Linked DNA regions of Homo sapiens. The protein of the gene in region 1 purifies or fractionates together with the protein of each later gene. This does not show direct contact. Each region holds a gene or a part of one and is shown on either strand. Other genes may lie near its edges.

What was found.
Region 2: the proteins of TAF7L (region 1) and ARK2N purify together in Homo sapiens (affinity purification with mass spectrometry; 2 studies listed by BioGRID and IntAct, with this or other methods). This does not show direct contact.
Region 3: the proteins of TAF7L (region 1) and KLRG2 purify together in Homo sapiens (co-immunoprecipitation; one large-scale study listed by IntAct). This does not show direct contact.
Region 4: the proteins of TAF7L (region 1) and TRIM58 purify together in Homo sapiens (co-immunoprecipitation; one large-scale study listed by IntAct). This does not show direct contact.
Region 5: the proteins of TAF7L (region 1) and KLHL21 purify together in Homo sapiens (co-immunoprecipitation; one large-scale study listed by IntAct). This does not show direct contact.
Region 6: the proteins of TAF7L (region 1) and TAF4B purify together in Homo sapiens (affinity purification with mass spectrometry; 2 studies listed by BioGRID and IntAct, with this or other methods). This does not show direct contact.
Region 7: the proteins of TAF7L (region 1) and PSME4 purify together in Homo sapiens (affinity purification with mass spectrometry; 2 studies listed by BioGRID and IntAct, with this or other methods). This does not show direct contact.

The regions. Positions count from the first base shown.
Region 1 is NC_000023.11:101,271,046-101,274,334, forward strand, and holds part of TAF7L (transcription initiation factor TFIID subunit 7-like), read right to left. Parts: intron 1-3,289. UniProt on the Homo sapiens protein: Probably functions as a spermatogenesis-specific component of the DNA-binding general transcription factor complex TFIID, a multimeric protein complex that plays a central role in mediating promoter responses to various activators and repressors.
Region 2 is NC_000018.10:46,243,534-46,247,033, reverse strand, and holds part of ARK2N (protein ARK2N), read right to left. Parts: intron 1-3,500. UniProt on the Homo sapiens protein: AMPK substrate important for exercise capacity and skeletal muscle function.
Region 3 is NC_000007.14:139,452,674-139,456,173, forward strand, and holds the end of KLRG2 (killer cell lectin-like receptor subfamily G member 2), read right to left. Parts: intron 1,542-3,500; coding exon 1,438-1,541; intron 1,035-1,437; coding exon 914-1,034; 3' UTR 17-913; downstream 1-16.
Region 4 is NC_000001.11:247,874,187-247,877,412, forward strand, and holds part of TRIM58 (E3 ubiquitin-protein ligase TRIM58), read left to right. Parts: intron 1-1,713; coding exon 1,714-2,303; 3' UTR 2,304-3,226. UniProt on the Homo sapiens protein: E3 ubiquitin ligase induced during late erythropoiesis. Directly binds and ubiquitinates the intermediate chain of the microtubule motor dynein (DYNC1LI1/DYNC1LI2), stimulating the degradation of the dynein holoprotein complex.
Region 5 is NC_000001.11:6,592,870-6,596,369, forward strand, and holds part of KLHL21 (kelch-like protein 21), read right to left. Parts: intron 2,689-3,500; coding exon 2,616-2,688; intron 1,242-2,615; coding exon of another isoform or gene 1,239-1,241; exon of another isoform or gene 790-1,238; coding exon 496-789; 3' UTR 1-495. UniProt on the Homo sapiens protein: Substrate-specific adapter of a BCR (BTB-CUL3-RBX1) E3 ubiquitin-protein ligase complex required for efficient chromosome alignment and cytokinesis.
Region 6 is NC_000018.10:26,271,445-26,274,944, forward strand, and holds part of TAF4B (transcription initiation factor TFIID subunit 4B), read left to right. Parts: intron 1-3,218; coding exon 3,219-3,380; intron 3,381-3,486; coding exon 3,487-3,500. UniProt on the Homo sapiens protein: Cell type-specific subunit of the general transcription factor TFIID that may function as a gene-selective coactivator in certain cells.
Region 7 is NC_000002.12:53,890,994-53,894,493, forward strand, and holds part of PSME4 (proteasome activator complex subunit 4), read right to left. Parts: intron 2,807-3,500; coding exon 2,681-2,806; intron 1,968-2,680; coding exon 1,815-1,967; intron 1-1,814. UniProt on the Homo sapiens protein: Associated component of the proteasome that specifically recognizes acetylated histones and promotes ATP- and ubiquitin-independent degradation of core histones during spermatogenesis and DNA damage response.

The DNA.
Region 1 (3,289 bases):
GTCATTCCTTTAAGTCCCTACCCCTCTTGCCAATTTCTCCCCAAATGAAGACAGAGACTACATCATAAGCATATCATAGCTCCCTGTAGAGCCTAGCTTAAAGTAGACACCTACTAAATCTAATTTGGATAAATGAACTAACATAAGGGACTCTGAGTAAATAAAGTTTACAGCTACATTTCTATGCTGCTCCTCAATACTAAATATAGTCATGTGTTACTTAACAATGGGGATATGTTCTAAGAAATGCATCCTTAGGCAATTTTGTCATGACGCGAACATGATAGAACATACTTACACCAACCTAGATAGTATAGCTTACTACACACCTAGGCTACATAGTATAGTCTATCGTTCCTAGGTTACAAACCTGTACAGCATATTACTGTACTGAATACTGTAGGCAATTGTAGCACAATGTTAAGTATTTGTGTATCTAAACATAGAAAAGGTAAACTAAAAATACAATATAAAAAATTAAAAATGGTACACTTATATAGGGCACTTACTATGAATAGAGCTTGCAGGACTAGAAGTTGCTGTGGGTGAGTCAGTGAGTGAGTGGTGAGTGAATGTGAAGGCCTAGGACATTACTATGCACTACTGAAGACTATATAAACACTATATACTTAGGCTATAGTAAAATAATTTAAAAATTAAGTAATTCTGCTGCTATGTTATGATGGCCACAGTGTCACCAGGTGACAGGAATTTCTTAGCTCCATTATAATCTTATGGGACTACCATCATATATGCAGTCTGTCATTGGCCAAAATGTTGTTATGCAGCATACAACTGTACTTACATTGATGAAAACAAAGATGTTTGGTGGGTACTAAAACAATCCTGGCATTAACTGTTCATCTGATTGTTTTAAAGCAGTATTAAGCAGTACTTGGATAAGTGATTTGCTGAGAGGAAGGGAATATATAGAACATAAAAATTCCGCTAGCCTTGTGGGGATGGGGGTGGGGAGTAGTGCCTGTACTTCAAGAGCACCATGCTAAGCCCATCCTCATAATACCAACTCCAGTCTCTTTAAAATTGTAACCCTCAACAGTATAAGGTTAGAGTCAGCACACATTTTCTATACAGCTGCTTGACCCTCATTTAGCCTATATTGCCTTCTTCTCTCTTCGCCCTGTACACTCTCTTGTGGCTTTGAAAAATACAGTTGTCGTTCAAGTTAGAAATACATACATCCTTAATGATTCCTTCTCCTTCAACACCCAGTAATTGACCCAACTCCTGTCAATTCTACCTTTAAAGTATATTCTCTAATATATCAATATTCATTGCAGCATTATTCATAATAGCCAAAAGTGAAAGCAACCCAAATGTCCATCAGCAGATGAATGAATAAACAAAATGTGGTATATTGATCCAATGGAGTATTAGTCAGTTTTAAATGGAAAAAAGTACTGATACATGCCATAACATGGATGAACCCTGAAAATATGCTAAATGAGAGGAGCCCGACTCAAAACACCATGTATTATATGATTTCACTTGTATGAAATAACTAGAATAGGCAGTAGATTAGTAGAAACTAGATGAGTGGTTGCCTAGTGCTGGGCAGGGGAGAGGTTCTGGAGAAGTGGGGAGTGACTACTAATGGATACAGGGTTTCTTTTTGGAGTGATGAAACTATTCTAAAATTGACTGCAGTGGTGGTTGTACAACTCTGAATATGCTAAAAGCCACTGAATTGTATAGTTTAAATGGGTGACTTGTCGGGGGTGGGGAGGACGGGGTTTGAGGCAGTCTCACTCTGTCACCCAGGCTGGAGTGCAGTGGTGGGATCTCTGCTCACTGCAACCTCTGCCTCCCAGGCTCAAGCAATCCTCCCACCTCAGCCTCCCGAGCAGCTGGGACTACAGGCATACACCACCATGCCTGGCTAATTTTTGGAGAGACGGGGTTTCACCATGTTGCCCAGGCTGGTCTCGAACTCCTGGGCTGAAGCCATCTGCCCACTTTGGCCTCCCAAAGCGCTAGGATTACAGGCACGCACCACCGCACCCAGCCTAAATGGGTGATATTGTATGGTTTATGAATTACATCTGTTATAAAAACATTTTTATTGCAGTTTAAAAATCTATATTCTTTCAATCTCCATTGCTACTAACTTAGTCCAAGTTACCATCCTCTGTTATTAGAGTACCACAAAGCCCCCCAACCAGCCTCTTTGCTTCTACTCTCACCTTCTTCCAACCCATTCTCCAGATAATAATCAGAGTAACCTTTTAAAAGTTTAAATTAGGCCAGACGTGGTGGCTCACGCCTGTAATCCCAGCACTTTGGGAGGCCAAGGCAGGTGGATCACGAGGTCAGGAGATCAAGACCATCCTCGCTAACACGGTGAAACCCTGTCTCTACTAAAAATACAAAAAATTAGCCGGGCATGGTGGCACGTGCCTGTAGTCCCAGTTACTTGGGAGGCTGAGGGAGGACAATCTCTTGAACCCGAGAGGCGGATGTTGCAGTGAGCCTAGATTGTGCCACTGCACTCCAGCCTGGGCGACAGAGCAAGACTCCATTTAAAAAAAAAAAAGTTTAAATTAGATGTGATTTTCCTATCTACAATTCTTCAAGGACTTCACATTACACTTAAGGCCAAACCCATCCTCCTTATCATGGCCTTCAAGGAACCATACACTATGGTCTCTGCCTACTTCTCCAACCTTATCTTAAGCCATTCTCTTCCTGGCTTTAAATACTCCAAAGGTCCTCAAAGAAGCCAAGTTCTTTCTGAGCATGAGACCTTGCATACGCTCCACCTAAGAGGCTCCTCATCCCACTCTTTGCCTGGACTTAATCCTTCCGGTCTCAGCTTCAATAGCACCTCCTAGGAGAGGTCTATCATGATCCCCCAATTAATTCAAGACCCTTTATTCTAATAGCACCACTGACTTTTTTCCTTCATAGCACTTCTTCACAATTTGTAACTTTATATTTGTATAATTTGTTTATTGTCAATCTCCCCTGCTAGACAGCTCCACGAGGATAAGTACAGCAGGTCCTTGAATAACATCGTTTTGTCCAATGTCGTTTTGTTACAGTAAGTCCTCACTTAATGTCATCAATAGGTTCTTAGAAACTGCAACTTTAAGCAAAATGACATGCAAAAGGTCTCCAAATAACATTGTTAGTTCAATGTCATTTCATTATAATTTTTTTTTTTTTTGAGACAGGGGCTCACTTTGTTGCCCAAGCTGGAGTGCAGTGGTGTGATCATGGCTCACTGCAGCCTCAACCTCCTGGGCTCAAGCAATCCTCCCACCTTAGC
Region 2 (3,500 bases), on another chromosome or scaffold:
ACCTGCTGGTATTTAACATGGTTACAAAACCCAGATGATATGCTAAAACTGGTCACTTTAAATTGGGGTCTGCTATTTTTTTTTTTTTTTTTGAAATGGAGTTTTGCTCTTGTTGCTCAGGCTGGAGTGCAAAGATGTGATCTCAGCTCACTGCAACCTCCACCTCCCGGGTTCAAGCGATTCTCCCACCTCAGCCTCCTGAGTAGGTGGGATTACAGGCATGCACCACCACGCCAGGCTAATTTTGTATTTTAGTAGAGACGGGGTTTGGCCATGTTGGTAAGGCTGGTCTCGAACTCCTGACCTCAGGTAATCTACCCGCCTCGGCCTCCCAAAGTGCTGGGATTACAGGTGTGAGCCTCCGCGCCTAGCCTAGGGTCTGCTCTTATCTGTAATGCTTGGTCAATATACTAGTGCAAGATAAGAGGCATGAGAAAGTGATGGGGGTGCTAAATACAGACTGCCTCGTGAATGTTAACAACTCCTAGACTAATAGTGTGAGACATTTGCCAAATTTCCTGTCAGAGCCTTAGATAAATTGTGCCACACAGAAAACAAATCAGCTAGGACCCACACCAAGGCAATGAGATGCCGTGCTCTACAAGAGACACCAAAGGCATTCTGGGATGCCTCTGCCTCTTCCTTCTTCTATTTCAGAGCCAGGACCATTAGTCCTTTTCTGTCACTGTAACCCTCTTCAGCATCCCACACATTCCTTTGGGAGCTCCAGTATAGAACCTGACATTCTCTGGCCTTTGGGCCTTTTCTGCTCTGCCCCTCCCCACCCCGCCTCACCCCCCATGGAGGACTTCACAGGATTCCAATGGCAGAACAGTGCCTAAAGCATACAGAAAAGTGAGCCAAAGATGCTATGAGGTTCTTCAAATACTGTCAGTGGTAGTAATCTTTTCCAGTTCTAAGACAAGAACAAGCCCTGTAGAGAAAAATGTAAATACCGCAATTACCATATATTAAACTGAAAATAAAGCAGAGCACTTATATTTAGCTATTGTGACAGCTGGCTGTCTCTGTGTAGGTCTCTGCCTGTGTAGGTCTTTGGAAAGATAACTTCTTTCACTATATGAGAAAATTCTAAATTTTGTCCTCCCACTACAGACCTTTTCAACAAGAAAGGGTAAGAAAAAGTTACCAAGAAAAGGTAGTTATCAAAATAGGGTAAGAAAAAGAAGCACAGAAAAAGTAGTAACTAAATTATCATGGAAAACAGTTTCTTTCTGTCTTTAAAGGAAATAATCCAGCTACTTTTTAAACTGTAAATCCACTGGGTAAGAACTAGGCCTGAGCTTTGCAACACACTGAAGAGAAAGTAATACTACATACTGTATGACAGTCGCATGCTAGGCATAAAAAAAATAAAAAAATAAGTCACTACTCATTTAGCTTTAAAAACAGCAAATTACTACTTTTAGTTCTTTTTTTCTTTCTTTTTTTTTTTTTTTATTGAGACAGAGTCTCACTCTGTCACCCAGGCTGGAGAGAGGTGGTGCAATCTCGGCTCACTGCAACCTCCACCTGCCGGGATCAAGCAATTCTCCTGCCTCAGCCTCCCAAGTAGCTGCGACTACAGGAGCCCACGCCACCGTGCCCAGCTAATTTTTGTATTTTTTTTAGTATAGATGGGGTTTCACCATATTGGACAGGCTGGTCTCGAACTCCTGACCTCGTGATCTGCCCACCTCGGACTCCCAAAATGCCAGGATTATAGGCGTGAGCCACAGCACCCAGCCTACTTTTAGTTCCTTAAACAGCACGTTAAACAACCTTAAAAAGTGAAGGAAGAGGGCTGGACATGGTAGCTCACGCCTGAAATTCCAGCACTTTGAGATGCAGAAGTGGGCAGATTACTTGAGATCAGGAGGGCAAGACCAGCCTGGCCATCATGGTGAAACCCCATCTCTACTAAAAATATAAAAAAATTAACGGGGCGTGGTGACGGGTACCTGTAATCCCAGCTACTGGATAGGCTGAGGCAGGAGAATCACTTGAACGAGGAGGCAGATGCTGCAATGAGCGGAGACTGCCACCGCATCCAGCCTGAGCGACAGAGCTGGAATCCATCTCCAACAACAACAACAAAAAAGAGTGAAGGAAGAGCTCAAAAATCTAAAATCTGGCTGGGTGTGGTGGCTCATGCCTGTAATCTTAGCACTTCGGGAGGCCAAGACAGGCGGATCACTGGAGGTCAGGAATTCGAGACCAGTCTGGCCAACATGGTAAACCCTGTCTCTACTAAAAATACAAAAATTAGCCAGGCGCAGTGGCACACACCTGTAATCCCAGCTACTTGTGAGGCTGAGGCACGAAAATTACTTGAACCCGGGAGGCAGAGGTTGCAGTGAGCCCAGAATGTGCCATTGTACTCCAGCCTGGGTGACTGGAGACTCCCTCTTAAAAAAAAAAAAAAAAAAAAATCTAAACTCTTACCATCAATTTGATGCAGATAAACATGAAGAACATGACCATACTTCATCTCCTTCACTATACTGATTCTGAAACATGGCCATTCTGGTCTAATTATTAAAAACCCTACACTAGGAACAGGAAACCCAGGATTCATTTCTCTGTACTGCCACCATGTTAGGGACAAATCAAGATTACCATCCCTATTGTAAGGATGGGGAAAATGCTCAGAACCTACCTTCTTGACAAGAAGGCTGATGGAAAAGATAAGGTATTTAAAGTTTTAACTTCCCAGGGAAAAAAATCCTAAATAAGTTCAGTTTACCACAGCTATAAGCCTTCCTCACCAAGACTTCTGCTTCTTCTTGCCCCAACTACATTTGTTTGCAGTGAGCCCTTACTAGCAACAAAAATGAAGCCATTTTCAGATATATTAATACAGTTTCCTAAACATGCTGGATACAAGAGTTACCTGAGGCTATTATTAAAAAGAGATTCCCAGAAACCATTTCAGATTTATTGACAGAATCATCAGGAGAAACCTAGGAGTGTGAATATTTATAAACACACTGGGTAATTTCTACGCTCTGGCAAAATTTAAGAAGTACTTGTAGCAAGAGCAACTCGTTGCAGTGCAAGAGAGTAATTAGAAATCCAGTGACTGAGCCACTAATCACTTCCTTACTCAGTCTACTTCAGCATATTAACATAATGCTGGTTAGCATTTCTGAGGGCCTACTATGTGCTGTCCTCCGTAGTAAACACACTGTATTTCACTTAGTGGTAACAATAACCTTTTGGAGTAGATACTATAAAGGTTGTGCCCCAGTTTTGTAGATAGGGAAAACTGAGGCTTTATATAATTTACCTGAGGACATGCAGTTTCTAAGTGGCCACTGGTTCAAAATCACCCACTACAGTGTTCAATTCCAGCATCAACTTAAAAAAAGCAAACACATGGCAAGAATTGAAATGGAAAATTCAGGTCTTTTGTTGATCAGTAGCTTCTCTAATTTCGACTTACTTTTTAATCCCTGCATGTGGTTCAAGTCTTTTGCCTAGGTTAAAACTAAAACTAA
Region 3 (3,500 bases), on another chromosome or scaffold:
GGTCTAGCTGGACTCAAGGAACTACACAACTCTGTCAGCCACATCCTCCAGCCTGAAGGTCTTCACTGCACCCCAGCATGGAGACATCTTCAGGTTGGTCGTCTCTGCAGCTGTGGGTAGAAGAGCTGCCTGGAACGTGCCTGCATTTCTCTGATTTCCTTTTTCACTCAGACTCCTCAGCTTCCACCTACCAAGCTGGGGTGCTCTCCTGGCTTCTCCTGCCAGGTGGCCCTGTCCTCTCTGCCTTGTCTCACCCTTGGGCATCAGCGTGCCAGGGGCTGGCCAGCCCACATGCGGGATCTCCACCCAGAACCTTCCTGTCTGCCAACCCTTTGCCAACTCTCAGGGTGGGGAAGGAAAACCTTGCTCTCCCCTCTTTCCAGGGCTGACCGCTCCTTTTCCTTGGTTAATTTTCCAGAGGCTGCCGGTAGGCTGTGTCCGATGTACACCCAGCTGCCTGAAGTAGAATTCACAGCAATGACGTTATCCCTGCCAAGTCCCACTGCCACTGAACAACGGCAGACTCATTTCCATGAGCCGGAATGAGAACCCAGATTGGAATCCGCTGTGGTTGTTAACCCTGTCTTTTTCCTCTAGGGGGAAATTGTCATTTTAATGAAACCAAGGCACAGAAATGCTAAACAACCATCCCAATGTCATCAAACCGATCATCCACAGAAGCTGGAGACTAATATTGGCACTCAGGCCTGAGGCCATAGAAAATCTCCTTTCCCTCGGATGCATCTTCCTGGGTTGAAGTCCAGCTCCTAGGCTCGCTCATGTGGCCCCCTTGAGCAGAGCATGAAGACCTGGATAACTGGGTCCAGGAAGAGGCTGCCCAAGCTCTCAACTGGCCTCCCCTGTAGGGGGTGCTGCATCTGCCTGGCAGGCTGAGGACCAGGCAGAGCCCAGATCACTGGGTCCCCTTGGCACAGACCCAGGGTCTTGGAGTGCTGCAGTTTGCAGCCACCAGCGTGCCTTCCTCCAGGGCCCCACAGTTGATATCCAGATTGTCCTCGCCGTCCTCAGGGAGTCTGGGAAAGGATGGGAGGGGAAAGAGGAGAGGTGTTTAGGGTGCCGGGGCCTTGCTTCCCAGCCAGACCCTCCAGCGTGTGTGCCTGTCACCTCTACCGGCCTGGGCACTGAGTGAGTCACTGCACTGGTCAGCCACGTGGCACTGGATGAATCCCCAAACCTCCCTGGGCAGCTGACCCCGCATCTGTAAAATGGGGGTGACAACCCTGCTTGGGTGAACGTGCTGGGAACCCAAATAAAGAGTGAAGCGACAGGGTCTAATCAGGCACCAGGCCGCGAGCATGGGCGTGGGCTGCTTTCCAAGTGGCATTCCAGGCTAGGGGAGCAGCAAGGAGGTGGAGTCTGGGGAGAAATGGAGGATCCAGAACAGCAGAGGAGGGAGAAAAGCCCGTGGTCACTCACAGCTGGGGCGGGAGTGGGGCCTCGTCGATCCAGTGCCAGCCCTGGGGGCCTCGCCAGGCCCCCACCCAGGAGTGCCTGGAGACTGGGTATCTGCCCAGGAAGTCCTGAGGGAGAAAAGTAAGCTGGTCACTCCCCTGGACACTGGCGTGGCTTGCCTGGGGCGTACGGATTCCCTGGGGCTTCCACAGGATCCCAGCTGGCCAATCCAGAAGGATCTGCTCAAGCCAGCACTTGCAGAACAAAAAAACCTTGAAAGCTGGATTGGATGCCTGCTGGGTGCCAGGTTCTGTGCTCAGGGCTGGGGGCCAAAATGAGGGTGACCCCGTCTCAGCCAAAGGGATGTGAACGCCAAACACCACTAAGTGATGCTCAGTGGGCATTGAGTGGGCAAAGAAACAAGGAAGCTCAGAAAGCGAGGGAGGTGGTCAGGCACGGTGGCTCATGCCTGTAATCCCAGCACATTGGGAGGCCGAGGCTGGCAGATTACCTGAGGCCAGGAGTTCGAGACCGGCCTGTCCAACATAGTGAAACCCCGTTTCTATTAAAAAAAAAAAAATTAGCTGGGCATGGTGGCGGGCGCCTGTAATCCCAGCTACTTGGGAGGCTGAAACAGGAGAATCGCTTGAGCCCAGGAGACAGAGGTTGCAGTAAGCCGAGATTGCGCCACTGCATTCCAGCCTGGGCTGACAAGAGGGAAATTCTATCTCAAAATAATAATAATAATAATAATAATAATAATAATAATAATAATAATAACACACGCAGATGTGCAGGAACAACAAAAACCAAAGTAAGTGTGCTGGAGAGGTACTAGAGGAGACTTTTTTCTTTTAAATATTTGCCCTCAATGTCACACTATTTTTAACAATGAATTAAAGCAAAAAAGACAATGTTTTAAAGTATATATTTAAGATTTTTTTTTTTTTGAGATGGAGCCTTGCTCTGTCACCCAGGCTGGAGTGCAGTGGCACGATCCTGGCTCACTGCAGCCTCCGCCTCTCAGGTTCAACCGATTCTCCCGCCTCAGCCTCCTGAGAGGCTGGAACTACAGGCATGCACCACCACACCCAGGTAATTTTCGTATTTTTAGTAGGGAAGGGTTTTGCCGTGTTGGCCTAGGCTGGTCTTGAGCTCCTGGCCTCAAGTGATCTGTCCATTTTAGCCTCCCAAAGTGTAGAATTAGTGGTGTGAGCCACTGTACCCGGCCAAGATTTTTTTTTTTTTTTTTTGAGACAGAGTCTCGCTCTGTTGCCCAGGCTGGAGTGCAGTGGCGCGATCTCGGCTCACTGCAAGCTCTGTCTCCTGGGTTCACGCCATTCTCCTGCCTCAGCCTCCCGAGTAGCTGGGACTACAGGCACCCGCCACCATGCCTGGCTAATTTTTTGTATTTTTAGTAGAGATGGGGTTTCACCGTGTTAGCCAAGATGGTCTCGATCTCCTGACCTCGTGATCCGCCTGCCTCGGCCTCTCAAAGTGCTGGGATTACAGGCGTGAGCCACCGCGCCCGGCCAAGATTTTTTAACTTGGAAAAAAAAGTTTAAATCTTTTAAGTCCCAGGGTGGGGACGTGGTGGAGGGGGCAGTGATGCCGGCACGGCCCGCATCAGCTTGTTCTTTCTGAAATGTCGTTTGGTGCTATGTGACAAGAGCAGCACCACCACTCCTGCTCAAATGGGTGATTTCACTGAGAAATAAATCCAAGAATATAAAGGGAAAAAAATGAACTTATCTAAAGATAACACGGTGCTATTTGTGAAGAAAAACTGGAAACTCCCCAAACGCTCAGCAATCAAGAAATAACAAGGTAAATTATAGGATGTCAACATGATGGAAAATTATAGTGCTATTAAAAATGACAAGTGTATAGAAAATGTCATTATGCAGGAAAATGTAAATATGAAATCATGCCATGTAAAAAAAAAAAGACTACACTAGCAAGTACATATCACTCACAACAATGTCAAGAAGCACATATTCACACTGAGGCAGGTTAGGAGCAGAGCGGTATAAATGAATTTCGCATATGCTCAGTTCTTCTTCCCTAAGAAAATGGTTTAAGTCAAC
Region 4 (3,226 bases), on another chromosome or scaffold:
CTGTAGGCTGTACAGGAGTCATGGTGCTGGCACCTGTTTCTGGTGAGGCCTCAGGACACCTACAGTCATGGTGGAAAGCAAAGGAGGAGCCAGCGTATCACATGGCAAGAGGGAAGCAGTGAAGTGGGGAGGCCCCAGGTTCCTCTTAAACGACCAGCTCTTGCATGAACGGATAAAGAACTCACTTATCACCAGTGGGATGGCACTAAGTCATTCATGGGGGATCTGCACCCATGATCCAGCACCCCCCACTAGGCCCCACCTTCAACATTGGGAATCACATTTCAACATGAGACCGGGAGGCGATACACATCCAAACCATATTATTTATTAACTTACTACTTATAAGCAATGCTAATAAGGAAATGCACTGAATATTTTACATCCCCCCTTCACTGAGGTTTCATATCTAGATGTATTTATTTATTATGTATATGGGTCAAATGTCTCATCAATCTCACTGGGACTTCAGAGTATCAGTATTTTTTATTGTTATATAACGCATAACTACAAGCTTATGTGCTTAAAGCCATACCATTTAGTAGCTCATGGTTCTGAAGACCAGACATCCAAGTGGGATCAGCTGGCTCCTCTGCTTAGGTTTTCTCAAGGCCCAAATATGGGTGTTGGCCAGGCCAGGCCAGGCTTCTGTGTAGGTCGGGGGAAGAACCTTACCTCCAACCTTATTCAGGTTGTTGGCATAATACAATTCTGTGCAAATGCGGTACTGAGATTCCTGTTTTCTTGCTGGCTGTTGGTTGGGGGCTATTCTCAGCTCTGGAGATCACTCTCAGCTCTAGAGGTCACTCGTTTGTCTCTTCATGTGACCTTTCCATTTTCAAAGCCAGCAAAGAGATATCAAATCCACATCTTATTGACCTTTCCTGCTGCCACCAACCCAATAGCCAGAGAAAACTTTCTGATTTTACAGGACTTGTGGGATTTGATTAGACGCACCTTGATAATCTCTCTCTTGTCATATAGTGTAACATACTCATGAGGCTAACACCAGGGTGTGAAGGTCATGGGGTCCATCTTAGAATTCCGCCTACCACAGTAATATAACTTTGGAAGTAGTGGATTTAATATTAATAAAATTCTATAGATTTTTAAGAAAAAAATTCCTAAGGGGTTTATAAATTTTATGTTAAATGCAGAAGATCCTCCTAAGTGCACTCAAATGCTTTGGATGTAAGCCAGACATGGTGGTGTGCACCTGTAGTCCCAGCTGCTGGGGAGGCAGACACGGGAGGATTGCTTGAGTCCAGGAGTTTGAGGCTGTAGTGTACCACGGCTATGCCCATGAATAGCTCTGCACTCCAGCCTGGGCAACATAGCAAGACCCCGTCTCTCTGTCTCTCTCTCTCTCTCTCACGCACACACACACACACAAATGCTTTAGATGTAAATGAAAGGAAACTAAATGATAATTCACTTGGTTTGTCGTCATCAATAGTTGTTTTTTTTTGGGAAAGTTAAAGAGTTCTGGGTTACGCAGAGGTAACAGTGGAATATACCAGAAAGTTATAAAGAATAAGAATAATAAAGTAATAAAGAAGATTTCACCTGTAAGGTGAAATACTGATTTGTTTTCTCTAGGAGTTAATAGAGAGAGAAAAGTGAGGAACTGTGGGACTATTCTTTTCAGTGGTTTCCTAAGTTTCTACCAGTCCTTTCTTTCCTTTCACCTGGTCCACCACATTCTTTCCGCAGTGGATGTAAAGCTGGATCCCGCCACGGCGCACCCGAGTCTGCTCTTGACCGCCGACCTGCGCAGTGTGCAGGATGGAGAACCATGGAGGGATGTCCCCAACAACCCTGAGCGATTTGACACATGGCCCTGCATCCTGGGTTTGCAGAGCTTCTCATCAGGGAGGCATTACTGGGAGGTTCTGGTGGGAGAAGGAGCAGAGTGGGGTTTAGGGGTCTGTCAAGACACACTGCCAAGAAAGGGGGAAACCACGCCATCTCCTGAGAATGGGGTCTGGGCCCTGTGGCTGCTGAAAGGGAATGAGTACATGGTCCTTGCCTCCCCATCAGTGCCTCTTCTCCAACTGGAAAGTCCTCGCTGCATTGGGATTTTCTTGGACTATGAAGCCGGTGAAATTTCATTCTACAATGTCACAGATGGATCTTATATCTACACATTCAACCAACTCTTCTCTGGTCTTCTTCGGCCTTACTTTTTCATCTGTGATGCAACTCCTCTTATCTTGCCACCCACAACAATAGCAGGGTCAGGAAATTGGGCATCCAGGGATCATTTAGATCCTGCTTCTGATGTAAGAGATGATCATCTCTAAAATTCTGTTCCCAAGATGCAGTCCTAGCGTAGCGAACGTTCCTGGAGTGGGGTGAAGGATATCAATATACTAAGTTTTAACAGATACCCCATTTAGGTCAGCACTTGATTCGTTGTTGCTGTGAAATATGTCCATGGGACAAAAGAGGGAATATGAAATATTTGCATATGGGAAGATTATAGAGCATAATAATTTTGTAAATGGAGCAATCTCAACCTCTATTTCTAGATCACATTTTCTTGATGTCTTCCTTCAAATTAATGACCTTGGATTACATAAGGATTTCTATGCATTCATTATAATTTGTTATTCCTTTCAATATCCTTGTATTTCAAATCTTCCATATAAGAATTAGACATGGCAATTCTTAAATTGATTCAGAATGGTCTGATACTATTCCAGTATCACCTCCTTAATTCTGTTTCTCCTCGTTTTCCTGATTTTCCTTCTCATTCTCTCCTTCCCCGCTCTGTCTCTCTCTCCCTGTCACTCTCTCTCTCTTGTTCCTTATTTTTTGTTTCTTACCTCTTACTGTTTAACCTGTTGCTTCCTTCTGGATTAATACATTTAGAGCCATTCCTTTATATGGTCACATTTCCTATGACTTTACTCAATTACTTTTAAAATCCTTTCTATTCTGAGACTAATTTTTAAGAATTACAAAGCTCATTCTTCTGAATCTAATATCACTAACTCCTAGACTTTTTCCGTTTTCTTTGGATACACTTTAAGTAGGAATTTATCAGAATTTTCATTCAACTCGTTCTTTAATGCAGATATTTACTAGTTATAAGACCTTAAGGCTGGGTGCAGTGGCTCACGCCTGTAATCCCAGCACTTTGGGAGGCTGAGGCGGGTGGATCACAAGCTCAGGAGTTCAAGACCAGCCTGGCCAACATGGTGAAACCCTGTCTCTACTAAAA
Region 5 (3,500 bases), on another chromosome or scaffold:
AGGGAGGCAGGCTCCCCACACCTCTGGACATGGAATTTGGGACCCCACTTCAGCCCGTCTGCCTGGTCCGCTGCTCCAGGTTCAGGCCATCCTCAGCCTCATGGGAGGACCCCTTCTCCCTTCACGCGTCCCTCCCAAGTCATCGTCCTCTCCCAAGGTGGGAACAAGTAGGTGCAGATGACAACGGCAGGAGGGGTGTGCGCCGCGTGGGTGAGCTGTGATCCGCGGGGTGGGGGTGACCTCCAAGACCCAGAAACATGTGCTGGCAGGAAAGTGGCTCTTCCTCAACTGCAGGGAGGGCGTTCCCGACGGCCTCTGATTCAGGCTCTCAAGGTACAGAAACCTTCCAGGTAATGGATCCTGGGCTGGCTTCGCCACCCAAGAGCCTGTGCTCCTCCTGTGAGCCCAACGTGTCCTTGTGCACAAAGGAGTGGGGCACTGCCCCGCAGAGGTGCCAGTTACCTGCACCGAGGCCCGTGCCGGGCCAGACTGGGGCTAGTGCAGCTCATCGGGGTCCCGCGGCGGCCGGGGTCGGCCTGGGTCCATGTCATCGCTGCCACTGTCCAACTCGAAGCCACGCCCACCCGAGAAGGTCTGGGGCATGAACTGGCGGAAGATGCTGACACTGCCATGCCAGAAGGTGGGTTCTGGGAGCCGCCCCACCACGCTCCACGCGCGAGTCTCTGGGTCATAGGCCTCTACCACGTCCGAGAGTTCAAATGTATTGTCGTATCCCCCAGAGACGTACAGCTTCCCCCCAAGGACGGCCAGGCTGCCCCCCACATGTACCTGTGGGCCAAAGGGATGAGTGAGTGGAGGTCAGAGGAGAGGGTAGGGCAGGGCCCCACCTGGGGAACCACTGGAGACAAGGCATGCCCTGTCAGTACCCCAGAGGGGTGGCCTTGGCTCTCCCAGAAAGCAGCAGAGAGGCCAACCCCTTTCCAACACCCTGCCTAGGAGAACGGGCCTCCCCGGAGGCAGCTGGGCCTTCCCTATGGTGATGAGGGTGCCCGCTGCAGCGCCAGGCCTCCCCGTGTGCAGGTCGTGCCGAGCAGCGCTTCCTACGTTCTCTCTCAGAATCTCTGCAGTGGCCCTCTGGGCTGAGCAGTGCTGTTCTCCCCATGTTACAGATGGGAAAACTGAGGCTTGCATGGCTGACAGTGGCAGAGCTGGGCTCTGAACCGCGAGGCTGGATGATTCCTTCCATCTTTCCCAAATTCGCTATGACTATGTGCAGCTTACTGCGGGGAAAACAGAACGCTGGGTCTCTTAAATGCCAGGACATTAAGCTGTGATGTAAGCTGTGAGGCTGGATGTCACGGAGTGTAGGTTTGGAAATGTTAACAGACACACAGGAAAGAAGGCTGTAGGCAATATGATGTGTACCTCAGACTAACACTGCTCACATGGCCAAATGGCACTGAAGCCTCCCTGTCCCATCACTGTCAGGCTGGGCACCCCTCTTCTCAACAAGCCCAGAGAGAAGGGGTGGACCCTGGTTGTCCTATTCAGAACACACAGCAAGTGCTCAACACAAGTATTCCCACAGTGGGCTGGGCATGGTGGCTCATGCCTGTAATCCCAGCACTTTGGGAGGCTGAGCCAGGCAGATCACAAGGTCAGGAGATCCAGACCATCCTGGCTAACACAGTGAAATCCCGTCTCTACTAAAAATACACAAACAAAATTAGCTGGGCGTGGTGGTGGGTACCTGTAGTCCCAGCTACTCGGGAGGTTGAGGCGGGAGAATGGCGTGAACCTGGGAGATGGAGCTTGCAGTGAGCCGAGATCGTGCCACTGCACTCCAGCCTGGGTGACAGAGCGAGACTCCGTATAAAAAAAAAAAAAGTATTCCCACACTGACTTCCTCAGGAACCAGCTGGGCGTGGTGGTTCACGCCTATAATCCTAGCACTTTGGGAGGCTGAGACAGGAGGGTCACTTGAGGCCAGGAGTGTGAGACCAGCCTGGGTAACACAGCAAGACCCTGTCTCTATAAAAATTTTAAGAATATCCTTTTGTATCTACATATGAGAAAAAAAATTACTGGGTGTGGTGGCACACGCCTGTAGTCTCAGCTATTCAGGAAGGTGCGGTGGGAGGACTGCGAGTCAAGGAGGTGGAGGCTGCAGTGAGCCATGATTGTACCACTGCACTCCAGCCTGGGTGACAGAGCAAGACCCTGTCTCAAAAATAAAAAAGGTAGGTCACAGACCTCATGCTGACTCTGCTCCGGCCACATGGGCTGCTGGTGTATCTAAGAACACGCCAGGGTGCCCTGCTGCAGGGCCTCTGTACCTGCTGTCCCTCTCTGGAACAGGTGTCCCCAGATGACTGTATGCCTTGCTCCCTCACTTCCTTCTGCTCTCTGGCTCACAGCAGATACTCAATAAACACTGCTCAAATGTGTACTAAGCTGTGTAATCATAGGGTATTACTTAACATCTGTGTCTCAGTGAGCCTTAAGTGCAAAATAAGGGTAAGAGCAGCCTTCTATTAATTGAGATGAGACCCACCCATCATGGCTGTGGATCCCAAACACTCATCACGATGACACTTGGGTTGCAAAATCAGGACCAGCCTGTGCTTCCAATGCTGGCCCGCCTGAAAATTTACCTGATTCATGGACGGGATCTTGTCCCATTCGTTCCTCGTCGGGTTGTACACGTCCACCTCAGCGGAGTCATCCCTGTGGAGGGGGCAGCAGGAGGACAACTGCTCAGAGCGAGGAGGAAGTGCACACATGCAGGGCTGGAGCAGAGTCCTCCCCTGGGTCACTGACTCCTCCAGTGACCTGGATCTTTCTGATGCCATCCAGCAGCACCCTTGCCAGGTAGGCTCCATCCCCAGCTCTTAGGAGCCAATTTCAGCCCCCTGTGCCCACTCAGCCAGGGCTCCAGGGCCAGAACTCTCACTCCCAAACCTGAAGATCAGGCTTTTGAGTACTTGAAGCCCATTCAGTGCCTCCCCATCACCCAGTACCAAGGTGGCTGTCCCCCACCCCCCAAGCCTACAGTAGCTCCCTTGAGATCTTAAAGAAGCCTCCTTGCTCCACTGTGCATCCCCACAGGCCCTGGAACACTCCTTGCCACTGTCCCCAATATCACTATGAGCCCCCAACCCTGTCCTGTTCACTACTATGTTGAAGTACCCCTCACTTTGGGGTCAAGACCCTTCAACTTCATCTGACACCCTTTATATCCCCACAGTAAAAGGCTCAAAGGCACAGCCTTGAAAAGCAAAGATGCAGGCCAGGCACTGTGGCTCACGCCTGTAATGCAGCACTTTGGGAGGCCGAGGCTGGTGGAGTGCCTGAGGTCAGGAGTTCGAGACCAGTCTGGCCAACACGATGAAACCCCGTCTCTAGTGAAAATACAAAAATTAGCCAGGTGTGGTGGCATGTGCCTGTAATACCAGCTGCTCAGGAGGCTGAGGTAGGAAAATCGCTTGAACCCGGGTGGCTGAGGCAGGAGAATCTCTTGAACCCGGGAGGCGGAGATT
Region 6 (3,500 bases), on another chromosome or scaffold:
AATTTCCATACAACTCATTTTATTGGCTCTGTGTAGAATTGGTTTTCACACATTTATTTCACATATACTTCAGTCCGTTTTCCTCCTGTCCTCAAGACATGCCTAGTCAGTCAGTGCAGCCTTGAAAAGCATTGAAGTTACCATTGGCTGGTCTGTTGAGTCAAAGGCGGAGTTGTGATTGAGTTTAAGACACTTTGGGCCAGGCATGGTGAGTCACACCTGTAATCCCAGCACTTTGGGAGGCCTAGGCAGGTGGATCACCTGAGGTCAGGAGTTTGAGACCAGCTTGGCCAACATGTTGAAACCCTGTCTCTACTAAACATTCAAAAATGAGCCGGGTGGTGTGGTGGGGGGCGGCTCTCATCCCAGCTACTCAGGAGGCTGAGGCAGGAGAATCACTTGAACCCAGGAGGCGGAGATTGCAGTGAGCCGAGATCGCACCACTGCACTCCAGCCTGGTGGACAGAGCCAGACTCCGTCTCAAAAAAAAAAAAAAAAAGACACTTTTAAGGGTGAGGGGGAATGGAATTTATTAGGCGAAAAGAAAAAAAAAACTCAGCAAAGCCAGAGGGGTTCCCGTTAGCAGGCCCCCATCTCACAAATTGAATCTCGGGTCACCACACAGGAACAGGAGAGGCCAGGCTCCTCCCCCTTGCAAAGGGCCTGATCTTCCTGAGGCTCCACCCCTCCTCCTCCCAGTGGGCAGGCGCGTGGGGGATTCTTCTGGAACCTTTCCCCTAATCTTCCGGTTGCGTCTATCAAGATCATCAGGCATTAGATTCTCACGAGGAGAGTGCAGCTTAAATCACCTGCATGTGCAGTTCACGAGAAGGTTCATGCTGCTATGAGACTAATGGCACCGCTGGCCTGACAGGAGGCAAAGCTCAGGCAGTAATGCTCACTTGCCTCCTCTGTGTGTCTCTATTCCTGACAGGCCACAGACCTATACCCGCCCGCGGCACAGGGGTTGGGGACCCCTGTGGTAAGATACAAGTAGTAGCTATACTAGAAAGTGTTATGAAGGACAGATTTTTTTTTTACTGGAGACAGGATAAAACATTGACAAGGAAAATAGAATTCCATAAATGCCCCCTCTACTTGTAAACGATAGGACGTTTTTCCTAAACTCACATTTCAGTTGGACCTTAGTTTGCTTCCTGAGGGAGGGGGACAGTACACCCCCAAGGAACCTCTCCCATCAGTCCTCAGAGGTGATCATAACCACCAGCTAAAATTCCAGATTACACTTTCTTAAATATGGCAGTACAGAGAGTTAATGACTGATTATAAGATAGACTAAAGAAAGAGGCTTATTTACTGTATAGAAAACTAAAAATTTATTAGAAAATCTCCACAAGAATTCAGAAGAAACTGAGTGGTAGGTTGGAGAGCAGGACTAAAGATATGAAAAGGAGGGAGACTTCCTTTTGAATGTGCATTTGAGGCTCTATATTTAACAAAATTGTACTAACTTAGGTGTAATTTTTAATTTTATCTCTTTTGTTAAAAACTTTATTGTTCTAGTCCTCATCATTAATCAGTAATTTTAAAATCTTATTAAAGTTTTTGCCAGGTGAGCCTTTAGTTTACTTTTCTTTTATTATCCTTATTCAATATTGAAATATGTTACAGACCTTTCTCATAAAATGAACTGAACAGCTTTCCCTATTCTGTTTTTCTAGAACATGTTGTATAAGACAGGAGTTATGCAAAAGTGTGGAAAAATCACATGGAAAATATCTGAGCCTGGAGACTTGAGGGAGGGAGGTCTTTTTGGGTATCATTTCAATGTCTTTAATTTGTCTATTCTAGTTTCTGTGTTTTGTGCTAATTTTGTCATTTCATGTTTTTCCAAAAACCCTTTTGGTTTTGTTTCAAATGTATTAGCATATGGTATTTAATATTTTTATTATGCATTATGAAATATACATGCAAACAAGACTACATGTGATATGTACACATATGTAATATGTACACATATGTAATATGTCTGCTGTTGAAAAAAATAATAGTAAAATGAAGGCCCATATACCCCAAACCCATGTTAGGGCCACCATGTGTCCCCACTCCTCTCCTTCTATCAATTCTCAGCATTTTAAATGTTCTTCCTGTTTGTAAAGAAAATTTTTTTCTAGAGACAGGGTCTTGTTAGGTTACCCAGACTGGTCTCGAACTCCTGTCCTCAAGCAATCCTCCTGGCTCAGCCTTCCAAAGTGCTGGTATTGTAAGTGTGAGCCACTGCACTTGTCCTTCTTCCCATTTTTTACCCTCAGAACATTCTTGTCTAGTACATATTCCAGTCTCTCTAATGTGGGAGATTTTATTGTACATTCAAATTCACCTATCTTGACTATTATAGAAGGAAATTTTCTTGAAGGTGATTGCAACTTGACCTTTTTGTGTTGCATGCTTGTAGAACATAGACATTTAAATTAAATGATGGTGCATTGTTCAGTTTTCTGTGTGAATTGTATGTAAATACTATTCCTTATCCCTGATCCCCAAACTTTTATTATGTTCTGTAACTTTTAGTGTTTGTCTTTAAGATTGTTGCTTTATCTCAATGTGATTTTCTAAATTACTGCCTGACTTGTGATTGCTTGTATGAGGTTTTTGTCCTGTAGGTGATGCTAGCTAGAGTCACACCTCATTTTGATAGAAGGTAGAGAAACAACTGAAATTCTTTTCAGTGTGAATATAAGATACCACGTTTTATAATATTCTTCATGCTTACTTTAATGGTCTACATAAAAGCAGTTTATCTAAATTTTAGATAATAAGTAGATTGCTCTGCTTTGTTCTTAAGAAAAAGCAGAATATTCTATGTTCTCATAAAGACTTTCAGATACTTCTTGGAGTATTAATAATATTTTTTGAGGACTTATTTGCTTTAGCACTGTTTTTCACAAAAAATCCTAGGACAGCAGGTACCGTTGCAATCCCTATTTTTGCAGAGAGTAATCAGGATTAGCAAGATTAAGTAACTTGCCTGCAGTCAACACTTGGTAGGTGGTAATGAAATAGTAGATGGGGTGAGAATGAAACCCAGATCTGCTAGACTCAAGAGTTCCTAGAACTGTATTATATTGCCTTAGACTACTAGAGCATAACATAAAACCACAGATGTCAAAATTAACTTGTCTGATGAGTGTGAAATGAGGCACCCACTAATGTATCATAGTAATACATGCCTAAATATTTAATACCTTTAATTTCAGTCTGTGGCTGTGCCAACCAGTGTCGTCACAGTTACTCCTGGAAAGCCATTGAATACTGTAACTACCCTGAAGCCTTCAAGTTTGGGAGCATCATCCACTCCTTCAAATGAGCCCAATCTTAAAGCAGAGAACTCAGCAGCTGTTCAGATTAATCTTTCTCCGGTAAGCTCTTACTTGCACCTTACATAAATCTTGTTCCTTGCAAGTTCTTTTGAATTGTTTGCTCACTAACACTTGTGTTTGCTTATATTTACATTTTCATATTTAGACAATGCTAGAAAA
Region 7 (3,500 bases), on another chromosome or scaffold:
TCCAGCCTAAGCAACGGAGCAAGACTCCGTCTAAAAAAACAAAACAAAACAAATCTCTCATATGACTGATGTGTTCTTAAAAATCTTGTATAATAGTACGCTAGGCTGAAACAAAACCTCAATCAAGTTTTCCATGTTTATCAAGATCATTTGATTAAACCTTAAAGAGGCAATGACATTTTAATTTAATTTAGTAATCAGCCTGAGATATAATCTTCAAATTCCAAGTCTTGGATAAATAGCCCATAAAAACATGTACGTCGTACAGAGACTGCATTTACACACATAGATTTTCTCATAGGTTAATGAGCATACAAATCACCTTGAGGTCTTGATAAAATGCAGATTGATTCATGTCAAGTGGGCCTGAGATCTTACTTTCCTAAAAAGCTTCCAAGTGCTACCCCTGCTGCAGGTCCATGGACTGTATTTTAGTTAAAAAGGATATACCTTGATTTCATCATTACACATTGTGTGCATGTATCAAAATATCACATGTACCCCATAAACATGAACAGTTACTATTATTAATTTTTTAAGTTCCTAAAAAAATTTTGAATTTTTTTTTTTAAAAGAATGAATGAAGGCCAGGCACAGTAGCTCACACCTGTAATCCCAGCACTTTGGGAGGCCAAGGTAGGTGGAGTTCAAGAGCCAGGAGTTCGAGACCAGCCTGGCCACATGGAGAAACCCTGCCTCTATTAAAAATACAAAAATTAGCCTGACAAGGTGGCGCATGCCTGTAATCCCAGCTACTGAAGGTGGCTGAGGCATTGCTTGAACCCAGGGAGCAGAGGTTGCAGTGAGCAATGATCACACTACTGTACTCCAGCCTGGGCGATAGGGCGATAGAGTAAGACTGTCCAAAAAAAAAAAAAAAGAGAAGACAGACAGACAAGGAAGATGGACGGATGGATGGACAGACGGAAGGACAGATGGAAGGAAGGAAGGAAGGAAGGAATTCTTCAATCAGCAGGAAGGGTTTGAGACAAAATTTCCAGTGGCAGCACTGTTTTGATTTTATCAAAAAAAGCTTTATCTCAAAGAACATATAGGGATAGGAATTATGTTTTGCAAAACAGGTAACTCAAGAGTGGCTTTAGTAATGTAACGGATGACAAGAATACATGTGACATTTTAAAATAAAATTGTTTCTTGTAGGCAAAAGTGTTTGCAGTCCTCCTAAAAGGTGACCAAAAAACCCTATTTGTGTCATCTCTTCGACAAAATAGTGGTCTACCTTATGCTCAGGTGGTCCTGACATTTGACCAGGTTATTTTTAGTCTCGTGTATTTTGCTAATGAACTAACCTTAAAGGCAGGTGTGTGAAAACTATATCTTACAATTAAAAAGAGGGATACTCTAAAAGGGAGAGTCAAACTCCAACTGTCTAAAAGACTGGACAAGTAATATAAATGATAAGGAGGCTAAGAGAAAGGACTTAATGAGAAGCTGGAATGGCTTAATGAAGGGAGAAGCACACGTGCACCATCAGCAGAGTGACACAGTGCAATAATGTAGGACCAGTGTTCCAGGATCTTCCTCTTTTTCAAGAAACTGGAATTCTTTTTTAATTTTTTTTAAATTTTTTCCCCCAATGTGGATAAAAACTTCAAAAATTTAAAGATAGTAAATGTTCCTAGAGACCATTAGGCTGTAATCTGTAATCAAAAGCAATGTCTACATATCGGCATATTTCATATCACTGAAGATTTCATATTTTAATTATCAGTATCTAATGTGTTGGGAATTGCCACCAAAATGGGTAACATAGCTTTAACAGGAAATGTTCTGTACAAATATTAATACATCACCTTTTCAAATGTCCAGTGCTTAGAACCTCTGATTAAACCAGCTATAATTTCTGCAACACATCGCTGGGTGCTTTCATGTGAATCTGCAACCAAATGTTCTAAATGGGGCTTCAGAACTGGCAGGAAGGCATCATCAAAATTCCTGAATATACCCTATAAAAACAAAGACTGTTCTTCAGTACTCAAATGACTATCATCTCGATTATAATTATGCTTGTAATTATTCTGTACATTACTAACGTGCTTAAAAGCTCCAAGCACACTCCCCTTTAGAACTGCTTTAACAATTGCGGTAAGTTAAAATAGTAAGAATACTGTCATTTTAAATATCACATTAAAATGTAACCAATGAAACAAACATTAATAATCTCTCTAAGTATCACACCTCAAAAAAAGCAACTAAACATAAAAAACGCATGCAGTTTTGGGTATTTTTTTTCCTTCTAATGCCAATTACAACAAACATTAAAGATAAATACAGTCATCCCTAGGTGTATGTGGGGAAATGGTTTCAAGATCCCCACCCCAAAATACCAAAATGTTCAAGTCCATGACATAAAATGGTATTGTATTTGCATATAACCTATATACATCCTCCTGTATATTTTAAATCATCTTAAGAGTACTTTTAGGACCTAATACAATGCTTACTAATTGTATTATATATTAATGCTATGTCAATACTGGTTGTAATGTCTTGTTTAGGGAATAACGACAACAAAAGTCTGTACATGTTCAGTGTAAATTCCAGTGCCATTTTAGATCAAGGCAGATGGCTAGCTTTGATCAAATATTTATAAGTTATGAACCTACGAACTGAATAGTTACTAAGCATTACAAAGAGGATATGTAAACAATATAGTTACCTTAAAGAGGCAAAAACGTCGTGGATTAAACTTATCTTTTCCTTTTCTGTCTTCTAATGATAGAAAAGTAATTAACTGCTCAACAAATTTAGGATCAGAAAAATGATCAAATATAATCTGTTCTGCCTATAAAGTTAAAAAAAGAACAATATTCAGCGTTTAAAATCCACTTAAATACATGATTCTGAAAAAGTTAAAATTACAAGATTTTGATAGTCAAAAGCAGGCTGTATTTTTGTTTCCATGAATTCTTAGTTCTCATAGACTACAGTGATTTCTAAAACCAAGTACCTCCCTCTAAAAATGCTAAAACAGGAAGTTTTCCTTCAGATTCTCAAGTTTGAATCCTATTTCTCACACTGTGAATTAAAAATCAACAAATGTTCTGCTTGGGAAATGAAGACTGAAAGCCACTGTAACACCTGGTGTGCAATTTGTTAAAATCCCCAAAACTATAAGTCAAGCCCCAACAAATCACTTCCATATTTACCTAACACCAGAAGTTAAAAGGCAAACTGTTCAGAATCAGAAAAAGTTACAATACCATTAACTCAAGGACCAAGTACATAAACTTAAAAACCCTTTCTCAACTTTCTTTTTTTTCTTTTCTTTTTTTGGGACAGGGTCTCACTCTGTCATCCAGGCTGGAGTGCAGTGGTGCGATCATGGCTCATTGCAGTCTTGCCTTCCTCGGGTCGGGTAATTTTCCCACCTTAGCCTCCCAAGTAGCTGGGACTACAGGTGTGCACCACTACGCCCAGCTGATTTTTGTATTTTTTGTAGAGACAAGGTTTTGCCATGTTGCTCAGGATGGTCTCAA